Homo sapiens: one gene and its partners. The protein of the gene in region 1 interacts with the protein of each later gene in a pairwise test. Each region holds a gene or a part of one and is shown in the gene's direction. Other genes may lie near its edges.

Region 1 (4,214 bases):
GAGGCAGGAGGATCACTTGAAGTCAGGAGTTCAAGACCAGCCTGGCCAACATGTGAAACCCCGTCTCTACTAAAAATACATAAATTAGCCCAGTGTGGTGGCACACAGCTCTAATTCCAGCTACTTGGAGGCTGAGGCAGGAGAATCGCTTGAACCTGGGAGGTGGAGGTTGCAGTGAGCCAAGATCACGCCACTGCACTCCAGCCTGGGTGGCAGAGTGAGACTCTCTCTCAAACAAACAAACAAACAAAAGTACCAGGGGAGGAATTAATTTGAATTTTATCCTAGTGTTAGCCAATTGGTCCCATCCAAGGAAAATTTAGAAAAGGGAAGGGGATGTGTAAAGGAAACACTAGGCCCCACCTAGATGGTGGCTGGAGCTTCTGATAGTCCTGTACTCTCCACATTTTTAGACTTTCTTGTACTTTTTTTTTTTTTTTTGTGACGGAGTCTGCTCTGTCGCCAGGCTAGAGTGCATGGGCACAATCTCGGCTCACTGCAACCTCTGCCTCCTGGGTTCAAGTGATTCTCCTGCCTCAGCCTCCCGAGTAGGTGGGACTACAGGTGCACGCCACCAAGACCAGCTAATTTTTTTTTTTTTTTTTTTTACTAGAGACGGGGTTTCACCATGTTGGCCAGGATGGTCTCAATTTCTTGACCTTGTGATCCGCCTGCCTTGGTCTCCCAAAGTGTTGGGATTACAGGCGTGAGCCACCGAGCCCGGCCATTTTTAGATTTTTTTTTATAGCCCTTTTACCCCTCCCACTTCTTGTGCTGTCTTGGTGTGTGTATGAAAAAGAGAGAGAGAGAGAGAGGAAGGAGAGCAAGAGTGAGAGAAAAAGAGAATATGGTTACTTAGCCCTTTTTCCCAAATCTGTTTTTGCTTTTGGGGATAGGATATGGTTATGGTGAAGTACTCCACACAGACCCCACCAAGTTTGCCTCTCCTGCGCTACAGCCACTGAGCAGGTGACTGAGGCGCTGTTGATCCAGGGTCATATCCTTACTCGCCCTAGAATGTAAGCTCAGGCAGGGCAGAGGCCATGCCTGACATGTGCATCCCAATGCTTTACACAGCCTAGGTGCCTAGCACATGCTAGATGCTTGGTAAATATTTGCTGAATGAAAGATCAAATGAATGATTGCAGCAAGCAAGTCCTGTAGGCATCCTGGAGCCCAAGGATTCTGCAGTAGGCAGCTTTCACAGAGGTTCTTCCAGTGTAGTGGCTCTAGCTCTGGGTGAAGTAGGATCATCAATGTCGGCCCCCAGGGTTCACAGCTGTTCTGAGCCCCGCCCCCAGGTGGCAGGGCAGCCCAGTCAGTCAGTCACGTGCTGGCGGCTGGCCAATCATCGGGGGCGGCGCGGGGAGGGGTGGTGTGGACGGAGAAAGTGAAAGGTGAGGCACGGCCCTGCAGATTTTCCAGCGGATCCCCCGGTGGCCTCATGTCGCGCAGTGGAACCGATCCTCAGCAACGCCAGCAGGCGTCAGAGGCGGACGCCGCAGCAGCAACCTTCCGGGCAAACGGTAACTGCACCGCGGCAGGGACTCGCTGGGGCGCGGAGCCGAGCCCTCCCCTTCCTTAGGAAGCTTTCGTCCCCTCCGAAGGTTGGAACGCTCATCCCGAGCCAGACCGACAAGGCGTACAGTCTGCAGGCCTGTACGAGCAGCAGGCCAATTGGCGCTGGGAAAGTCCAATCCTGGGCCTCTAGCTCCTGAGCGGGACAGGGCCGAGAGGGCGCTCCCGAGCTTGGGCCTGCTGGTGGGTGAGACCCAGGAGAGAGGGAGCTAGAGAGCTCTGAGGACTGATCTTGACTGTCTGCCCCCAGACCATCAGCATATCCGCTACAACCCGCTGCAGGATGAGTGGGTGCTGGTGTCAGCTCACCGCATGAAGCGGCCCTGGCAGGGTCAAGTGGAGCCCCAGCTTCTGAAGACAGTGCCCCGCCATGACCCTCTCAACCCTCTGTGTCCTGGGGCCATCCGAGCCAACGGAGAGGTAAGCCTGTAGAGCCCTGCATCTGCAGGCTGGGCCACGGGGAGTAGTTCCCTCTTAGAACTGTCCTCCACCCACAGGGATAGTGAACCTCCTTCTGGGTCATATCCCACCAAGCTTTTTGGTCCCCTAGGGTGGGCCTTCCCTACTCCCTTGTAGCCTGTCCAGTCTTTGAAGCCCACCAGGTAACTGGTGGTATGGGGCAGTGAGTGCTTCTAGCCTATCCTTGTCGGTAGGTGAATCCCCAGTACGATAGCACCTTCCTGTTTGACAACGACTTCCCAGCTCTGCAGCCTGATGCCCCCAGTCCAGGTAACCTGGCTCCAACTGCTGCTGGGGAGGAGGGTGGCTAGACCTCTTGAGGGACTTCTGCTGCAGAGAGTGATACTCCTTTACCTCAGGACCCAGTGATCATCCCCTTTTCCAAGCAAAGTCTGCTCGAGGAGTCTGGTAACTATGGATTTCCCCTCTTACAACTTTCAAACCAGAGTTGGAGACTCAGCATTGGGGTTCGGCCCTGCCCGTAGCACAGCCAAGCCCTACCTCTCGGTTATCTTTTCTCCCGTCACCACCCAGTAAGGTCATGTGCTTCCACCCCTGGTCGGATGTAACGCTGCCACTCATGTCGGTCCCTGAGATCCGGGCTGTTGTTGATGCATGGGCCTCAGTCACAGAGGAGCTGGGTGCCCAGTACCCTTGGGTGCAGGTTTGTGAGGTCGCCCCTTCCCCTGGATGGGCAGGGAGGGGGTGATGAAGCTTTGGTTCTGGGGAGTAACATTTCTGTTTCCACAGGGTGTGGTCAGGAGGGAGTTGACTTGGTGTCTTTTGGCTAACAGAGCTCCGTATCCCTATCTGATAGATCTTTGAAAACAAAGGTGCCATGATGGGCTGTTCTAACCCCCACCCCCACTGCCAGGTAAGGGTGTCAGGGGCTCCAGTGGGTTTCTTGGCTGAGTCTGAGCCAGCACTGTGGACATGGGAACAGGATTAATGGATGGGACAGAGGAAATATGCCAATGATGTGGAGGCTTGGAGGTAAAGGACCTGCCTGTTCTTCTCTGCTTTTGCCCCTTGACAGGTATGGGCCAGCAGTTTCCTGCCAGATATTGCCCAGCGTGAGGAGCGATCTCAGCAGGCCTATAAGAGTCAGCATGGAGAGCCCCTGCTAATGGAGTACAGCCGCCAGGAGCTACTCAGGAAGGTGGGAGAGAGCCAAGCCCTGTGTCCCCAAGGAGTCCCTAACTTTCTTATCCCATGAGAGAGGTGTGTAAAGGAGAAAGCTAGAGGTGAACTAGTAGAGAGAGACTTGCTAGGAGGCCTTAGCAATAATCCAGTAATCTAAAGGAAAGATGATGGTGACTTAGACTCGGGTGGTTAGTGGTAGAGGTGGTGAGAAGACATCAGATCCTGGGCACATTCTTTTCTTCTGCTTCCCTTGCCTATTTGCTGACCACACTCCGGCTCCTATGTCACCTTGATGACTTCCTATCCATTCTGTCTTCCTAGGAACGTCTGGTCCTAACCAGTGAGCACTGGTTAGTACTGGTCCCCTTCTGGGCAACATGGCCCTACCAGACACTGCTGCTGCCCCGTCGGCATGTGCGGCGGCTACCTGAGCTGACCCCTGCTGAGCGTGATGGTCAGTCTCCCAAGTAGGATCCTGGGGCTAGGCACTGGATGGAGGTTGCTCCCAGTAGGGTCAGCATCTGGACCCCAGGCTGAGAGTCAGGCTCTGATTCCAGATCTAGCCTCCATCATGAAGAAGCTCTTGACCAAGTATGACAACCTCTTTGAGACGTCCTTTCCCTACTCCATGGGCTGGCATGGTGAGGCTTTTCAAGTACCTATATTTAGCCCCAACACCATTTCTGGGCTCCTGGGGCTCAGCCTAGTGAACTGCAACCTCAAAGGAGCAAGCCTTGAAACAGTTGCTGGGGGAAGTGGCCAGAGTAGAGATGCTGGGACTGAGGGTGGAGCAGCAAACTTGGTGAAACTACATCTCCAATGTGCTTTCTAATCTCCTGCCAGCTCTTCTCAAGCAGGGGATCCTGGGAGATGTAGTTTTCAGATACCTGGTTGGGTTTGGGAGTAGGTGCTAACCTGGATAACTGTAAAAGGGCTCTCTCTCCCCACTGTCTCTCTTCTTTCTGTCAGGGGCTCCCACAGGATCAGAGGCTGGGGCCAACTGGAACCATTGGCAGCTGCACGCTCATTACTAC
Region 2 (3,647 bases), on another chromosome or scaffold:
CATGGGAAGTCCCTGATGAACCTTAGTCACCCTAATTATTATTTATTATAATTTTTATTTTTTAACATTTTATTTATTTATTTATTTGTTTTTGAGATGGAGTCTCGCTCTGTTGCCCAGGCTGGAGTGCAATGGTGCAATCTCGGCTCACTGCAACCTCCGCCTCCCGGGTTCAAGCCATTTTCCTGCCTCAGCCTCCCAAGTAGCTGGGACTACAGGCATGCACCACCACGCTTGACTTTTTGTATTTTTAGTAGAAACAGGGTTTCCCCATGTTGGCCAGGCTGGTCTCAAATTCCTGACCTCAAGTGATCCACCCACCTTGGCCTCCAAAAGTGCTAGAATTAAAGGCATGAGCAACTGCACCTAGCCACGTTGATGATGATGATGATTATTATTATTATTATTATTATTATTTAGAGATGGAGTCTTGCTCTGTCACCCAGGCTGGAATACAGTGGTGATCACAGCTCCCTGCAGCCTCCAACTCCTGGGCTCAAGCAATCCTCCTGCCTCAGCCTCTCATATAGCTGGGACTAGAGATGTGCACCATCACATCAGGCTAATTTTTAAATTTTTTTGTAGAGACAAAGTCTCACTTTGTTGCCCAGGCTGGTCTCAAACTCCTGGGCTCAAGTGGTCCTCCCACCTTGGCCTCCCAAAATACTGGGATTATAGGCATGAGCAACCACACTCAGCCATCACACTGATTATTAGTTTGCATTTTTGAGTGATTTTGTTTATTCTAAGTGATATGATTTTTCATCCACGATAACAAGGGACAGTCATAAAATGAAGAAGGCCTACATTTTTTTCCACGATGGGGTCTCACTCTGTCACCCAGGCTGGAGTGCAGTGGCACGATCTCGGCTCACTGTAACCTCCACCTCCCGGGTTCAAGTGATTCTCCTGCCTCAACAGCCCGAGTAGCTAGGACTACAGGCGTGCGCCACCACGCCCGGTTGATTTTGGTATTTTTAGTAGAGATGAGGTTTCACCATGTTGGCCAGGCTGGTCTCAAACTCATGCCCTCAAGTGATCCACCCGCCTTGGCCTCCCAAAGGGCTGGGATTACAGGCTTGAGCCACTGCGCCTGGCCAACAGTCATATTGTTGATACCACACCTACTAAAGCAAACTCTTGGGAAAATACTGATTGAAGCAACAGCATGAAGCAAACCTTGTTTGCAATCCTTGCTATTTAGACTTTGCTGCCAAATGTGATTTCATACAAACAAGTTTCATATCAACAAGTCTTCTGTGTATCTAGCTTTACTCGGACCCACTCAATATTTGCATTTTCAGGGAAAAAGAAGACTGTCAAGTTGGCTGACCAAGGACAATAATGATCTCTTTCCTTAAAGTGCTAACTCCCCAGGAGGAATGGGAAAGGTGTGAAGAGGGGCTTCCCACACAGTGCCATCATGGGGAGCGGCTCAGCACTCCGAGCCACCTTCTGGGCTTGGGGAGCCCCTGGTCTTACCTCAATGATGTCTTCTGTCCCACAGTTCCCCCTGCAGTGGTTTGGAGTCCCTGCCATTCTGAAAGGCTGGTTTGAGCGAGTGTTCATAGGAGAGTTTGCTTACACTTACGCTGCCATGTATGACAAAGGACCCTTCCGGGTAGGTGGATGGTTCTGAATGCTCTGACAGCCAGCTTCTGGGTGGTCTGTCCTGATGCAGGGGTGTTTGTTTGTTTGTTTGTTTGAGATGGAGCTTCCCTCTTGTTGCCCAGGCTGGAGTGCAGTGGCGGGATCTCGGCTCACTGCAACCTCCACCTCCTGAGTTCAAGCGATTCTCCTGCCTCAGCCTCCCGAGTAGCTGGGATTACAGGCATATGCCACCATGCCCGGCTAATTTTGTATTTCTAGTAGAGACGGGGTTTCTCCATGTTGGTCAGGCTGGTCTTGAACTCCTGACCTCAGGTGATCTACCCGCCTCAGCCTCCCAAAGTGCTGTGATTACCGGTGTGAGCCACTGTGCCCGGCTCTGATGCAGGGTTTTGAGCACAATTAGATCCTAAGCCTAGGCTCCAGGTCCTTCGGGAGAGACGCATGATCAAGTTTTTACAGATGGAATGACATGATGTTTGGGATTTGTTTTAAAATGCTCCAGAGGCCGGGCGCAGTGGCTCACGCCTGTAATTTCAGCACTTTGGGAGGCCGAGGCAGGCAGATCACCTGAGGTCAGGAGTTTGAGACCAGTCTGGCCAACATGGCGAAACCCCGTCTCTACCAAAAATACAAAAATTAGCTGGGTGTGGTGGCGGGCATCTACAATCCCAGCTACTCAGGAGGCTGAGCCAGGAGAATTGCTTGAAACCCAGGAGGTGGAGGTTACAGTGAGCCAAGATCGCGCCACTGCACTCCAGCCTGGGCAACAAAGCAAGACTCCATCTTAAAAAATAAAAGGCCAAGCACGGTGGCTCATACCTGTAATCCCAGCACTTTGGGAGGCCGAGGCAGGCGGATCACAAGGTCAGGAGATCAAGACTATCCTGCCTAACACGGCGAAACCCCGTCTCTACTAAAAATACAAAAAAACTTAGCCGGGTGCGGTGGCACGTGCCTGTAGTCCCAGGTACTCGGGAGGCTGAGGCAAGATAGTTGCTTGAACCCGGGAGGCAGAGGTTGCAGTGAGCCGAGATCGCACCACTGCACTCCAGGCTGGGTGACAGAGCGAGCCTCCATATCAAAAACAAAAACAAAAAAAAAATTAGCCGGATGTGGTGGTGGGCACCTGTAATCCCAACTATTTGGGAGGCTGAGGCAGGAGAATCACTTGAACCCGGGAGACAGTTTGCAGTTGGTTGAGATGGTGCTACTGCACCCCAGCCTGGGCAACAGAGCCAGACTCTGTCTCACAGGAAAAAAAAAATGAAATAATAAAATAAAATAAAACGCTCCAGAGAAAAAGGGGGTCATGGGTCGAGCTAAAACTAGAATAGCAGAATACTGAGAGGTGAAGGTGAGTGATAGATGCAGCACTATTTTCTCATTTACATGTGTTAAAAATTTCCATAATAAAAACAAAAGAAGGCCTGTCTTCATTTTTTGGAGGCCCAAATCCTGCACAGGGAACCCTTCGAGACCTTCCAGATGAAAGAGCTTGTCCTACGCCATGCCTAGCCCGTGGGAGGATGGATAAGAACAACCAATAACTCCACCTAGGCAGCCAGCAGCCAGCACTGATTTTGGATATGGTGACAGCCTCGTCCTAAGCCACATGTGGGGGTTTGGAATCCTTCATTTGCCCCAGGCCACCGGTCTGTAGACCATCTAGGCTGGCACTCCTGCAGAGTCATATTATGTAGCTCAGGGGAGCCAAAGTATGAAGTAATATAAACAGCAAATAGGACAGACTTGTGTGTTCTTTTCCCTGGAGCTGTTTCATTAACTTCTTGTCACCAAGGGGATGTGGAGGGAAGTGAAGTTTGTTATTGCTTTTTCTTTTGCAGAGTAAGAAGGCAGTGCTTTCCATCACCACTGGTGGCAGTGGCTCCATGTACTCTCTGCAAGGGATCCACGGGGACATGAATGTCATTCTCTGGCCAATTCAGGTACCTCATTTTCTTTTCTTTTCTTTTTTTTCTTTGAGACGGAGTCTCACTCTGTCATCTAGGCTGGAGTGCAGTGACACCATCTTAGTT
Region 3 (3,647 bases), on another chromosome or scaffold:
TCAACTATAATAGTGGATTCATCTCTTTCTCCTTGTAGTTCTGTCAGTTCTGCCTCACATACTTTGCTGTGCGGTTAGGTGCATACCCATTAAACATTATTATTTCTTCTTGGTCCAGGCATGGTGGCTCATACCTGTAATCACAGCAAGCGAGGTAGGCGGATCATTTGCCCCCAGGAGTTTGAGACCAGCCTGGACAACATGAACATGGCAAAACCCTGCCTCTACCAAAAAATACAAAAATTACCTGGGCATGGTGGGGTATACCTGTAGTTCCAGCTACTCATGAGACTAAGGCAGGAGGGATAGCCTTGAGCCAAGGAGTTCAAGGCTGCAGTGAGCTGTGATCACACCAGTGTATTATAGTCTAGGTGACAGCAAGACCCTGTCTCTAAAAGTAAATAAGAAAAAAAATTTTTTTAAAGGTTCTTATTTCACCTTTGCTTATTTCTTTCTTTCTTTTTTTTTTTTTTTTTTGAGACAGAGTCTCGCACTTTCGCCCAGGCTGGAGTGCAATGGCGCGATCTCGACTCACTGCAAGCTCCGCCTCCCGGGTTCATGCCATTCTCCTGCCTCAGCCTCCGGAGTAGGTGGGATTATAAGCACCCACCACCATGCCTGGCTAATTTTTTTTTTTTGTATTTTTACTACAGACAGGGTTTCACTGTGTTAGGCAGGCTGATCTTGAACTCCTGACCTCAGGTGATCCACCCACCTTGGCCTCCCAAAGTGCTGGGATTGTAGGCATAAGCCACCACGCCCTGCCTCTCCTTCAGTTTTGAAGGATAATTTCACAGCATACAGAATTATAGGTTGGTGGTTTTTTCTATGCTTTAGATATTTCACTTCACTGTATACTTGCATGGTTTCTGAGAAGTTGGAGTTGGATATGTAATTCTGTCTTTGTTTTGTGTGTGTGTGTGGTTTTTTTAGGCAAGGTCTGTCTCTGTTGCCCAGGCTGGAGTACAGTGACACAATCTCGGCTCACTGCACCCTTGACCTCCCGGGCTCAAGTGATCCCCTCACCTCAGCCTCCTGAGTAGCTGGAAGTACAGGCACACACCACCACACCCAACTAATTTTTGTATTTTTTGTAGAGACAGGGTTTCACTATGTTGCTCAGGGTGATTTTGAACTCCTGAGCTCAGGCTATCTCAAGCTATCTGCCCATCAGAGCCTCCCAAAGTGCTGGATTACAGGCATGAGCCACCGCGCCCAGCCATTTAATTCTTTTCTTTGCTCCTCTGTGGGTAAGCTGTTTTTTCCCCCCTCTGGCTTTTTTTTTTTTTTTTTTTTTTTTTTTTGGGTAGAGATGGGGTTTCCCTATGTTGCCCAAGCTGGCCTCAAACTCATGGGCTCAAGCAGTCCTCCTACCTTGGCCTCGCAAAGTGCTGGAGTTATAGGCATGAATCAGTATGTCTGGCCAGGAGTTTTTTGTTTGTTTTTTTTTTTAATCTTTGATTTCCTGAAGTTTGAAAATGATATGCTTAGATGTGTGTAGTTTTTCTGACATTAACTCTGGAAAATTCTCAGTCATAATTATTTCAAATATTTTTCCTGTTTCTTTCTCTTGTTCTTCTCTGCTGTTCCCATCATGTGTATGTTACACTTTGGTTTGTCCCACAGTTTCTGGATACTCTGTTTTGTGGTGGGGTTTTTTGTTTTTAGATTTCATGGGGTTTTTTGGGCTTTTTTGTTGTAGTTGTTGTTTATTTGTTTTTTGTTTTTTTTGAGACAGTCTCGCTCTTGTTGCCAGGCTGGAGTGCAGTGGCGCAATCTCAGCTCACTGCGACCTCTGCCTCCCAGGTTCAAGCAATTCTCCTGACTCAGCCTCCTGAGTAGCTGGGATTATTACAAGCGCCTGCCACCACGCTCGGCTAATTTTTGTACTTTTAGTAGAGACGGGGTTTCGCCATGTTGGCCAGGCTGGTCTCGAACTCCTGACCTGAGGTGATACCCCCGCCTCAACCTCCCAAGGTTTTTTGGTCTTTTTTGTCTTTGCTTTTCAGTTTTAGAGATTTTTACTGAGATATCATCAAACTCAGATATTCCTTCCTCATTCGTGTTCAGTTACCAGTAAGCCCATCAAAGGCGTTCTTTATTTCTGTTACAGTGGTTTTGTTCTCTAGCATTTCTTTTTGGTTCTTTTTAGAATTTCCATCTCTCTTATTACATTCCCATTTGTTCTTCTTACATGCTGTCTGCTTCATCCATTAGAGCCATTAGCATATTAATCATGTTTTAAATTCCCAGTCTGATCATTCTAACACTTCTGCCGTATCTGAGTCTAGTTTTGTGCTTGCTCTAAAAAACTGTTTTTTTGCCTTTTGGTACATCTTGTAATTTTTTGGGAAAGGTGGACATAATATACAGGAACTGTGTGAAATGGGCCTTCGGTAATATGGAGGTTTTAGTCTTTTTGTGAGCCTCTGCCTCTGGATCATGAACTGGACCAGTGCTTCTCAGTCATAGTCCCTGCCTTAGGTGGGACAAGATGGCTAGAAGGGGCTAGAGCTGGGTATTTCTCTTCTCCCAAATTAGTTAGGCTCTGATAAAACCCCAGCAGGATAGACTCTAGTTAGTTTCTTCTGAGGGCAGAATTCTCTGGCATATTTAAAAATGGTTCCTTTTGCACCCTCCTCCAACCCAGGGAATTATTCTGACTGTCACTACGAGGAAGTTGTAGAGGTCCAGAAGGTAAAACTCAGGAAGGTATCACTCTTCCCAGACACCCTTCACCAAGTCCCCATGGAGCTTTCTCTCTAAGACTTGTCCACACTGAGCCTTTAGCAATTCACTTGGTTACATTTGAGGTTTCCCTACCCTGCACTGGTTCCACAGAGATTTCAGCTCCTGGGTGTCTGCTATGGTAAATGGTGATGCTCTGTATTACCCTGCCTGTCTCTCCTATTTCGGGGGCAGTGGTTTGCCCTGTGACCTTACTTCTCCCACAGATTAAGAATATCTGTTGATTTTTCAGTTTGCTCAGCCTTTTACTTGTTAGGATGGAGTGGTGACTTCTAAGTTTTTTGCATGCCAGACTAGAAACAGAAAGTCTGATTTTTAGTTTAATGTAAAACTAGAGCATATTTACAACTCAGATTATAATTTTGTAGAAAGAAGTGCCGAAAAGAATAAACTAGAAAATTCCATATTAAATAAAAAACAAATTACTGTTTCTAAAAATACTGAAATACGGGAGCTTCTGTAACCATCTAAATAGCTTACTTCCAGCATTATGGATTGAGCACTGGCAGAGCATGAGTAAGAATATACACCATCCAGCTGTAACTCTTCATGGAGTTTTTCTCTCTCACCTTTTAGAGATTTGAAAACTAAACCCTGACTCACTGGGATGAAGGGCAGAAGGGAAAGGGCAGTGTGAAGTTACTGGTATAGGGACTGCTAGTGATCACAACTGTGCTTGAAGTAGATCCATTTCTACAATAGTATTAGTGAATACACAGAGGCTAAACAGAGAAGAGGGAAGATTCACGTGTGTTCTGCTTTCCAACTAAGCTATCACCCCAGCCCATCTTATGTAACTTAGAAGGCAGACCAGATTGGACCTGTGGTGGGTTGATGACCATTCCAGACTCATTTCAGGTGCTTTATATTTTCATCCTATTGACATTAAACACAAATAC

Evidence for each region.
Region 2: the proteins of GALT (region 1) and NQO1 interact in binary tests that used the Homo sapiens proteins (3 or more experiments, as listed by UniProt).
Region 3: the proteins of GALT (region 1) and UBTD2 interact in binary tests that used the Homo sapiens proteins (3 or more experiments, as listed by UniProt).

What each region holds. Positions count from the first base shown.
Region 1 is NC_000009.12:34,645,261-34,649,474, forward strand, and holds the start of GALT (galactose-1-phosphate uridylyltransferase), read left to right. Parts: upstream 1-1,414; 5' UTR 1,415-1,444; coding exon 1,445-1,526; intron 1,527-1,828; coding exon 1,829-1,998; intron 1,999-2,231; coding exon 2,232-2,307; intron 2,308-2,396; coding exon 2,397-2,445; intron 2,446-2,571; coding exon 2,572-2,701; intron 2,702-2,854; coding exon 2,855-2,911; intron 2,912-3,073; coding exon 3,074-3,196; intron 3,197-3,501; coding exon 3,502-3,634; intron 3,635-3,737; coding exon 3,738-3,821; intron 3,822-4,149; coding exon 4,150-4,214. UniProt on the Homo sapiens protein: Plays an important role in galactose metabolism.
Region 2 is NC_000016.10:69,712,938-69,716,584, reverse strand, and holds part of NQO1 (NAD(P)H dehydrogenase [quinone] 1), read left to right. Parts: intron 1-1,507; coding exon 1,508-1,621; intron 1,622-3,455; coding exon 3,456-3,557; intron 3,558-3,647. UniProt on the Homo sapiens protein: Flavin-containing quinone reductase that catalyzes two-electron reduction of quinones to hydroquinones using either NADH or NADPH as electron donors.
Region 3 is NC_000005.10:172,214,249-172,217,895, reverse strand, and holds part of UBTD2 (ubiquitin domain-containing protein 2), read left to right. Parts: intron 1-3,647.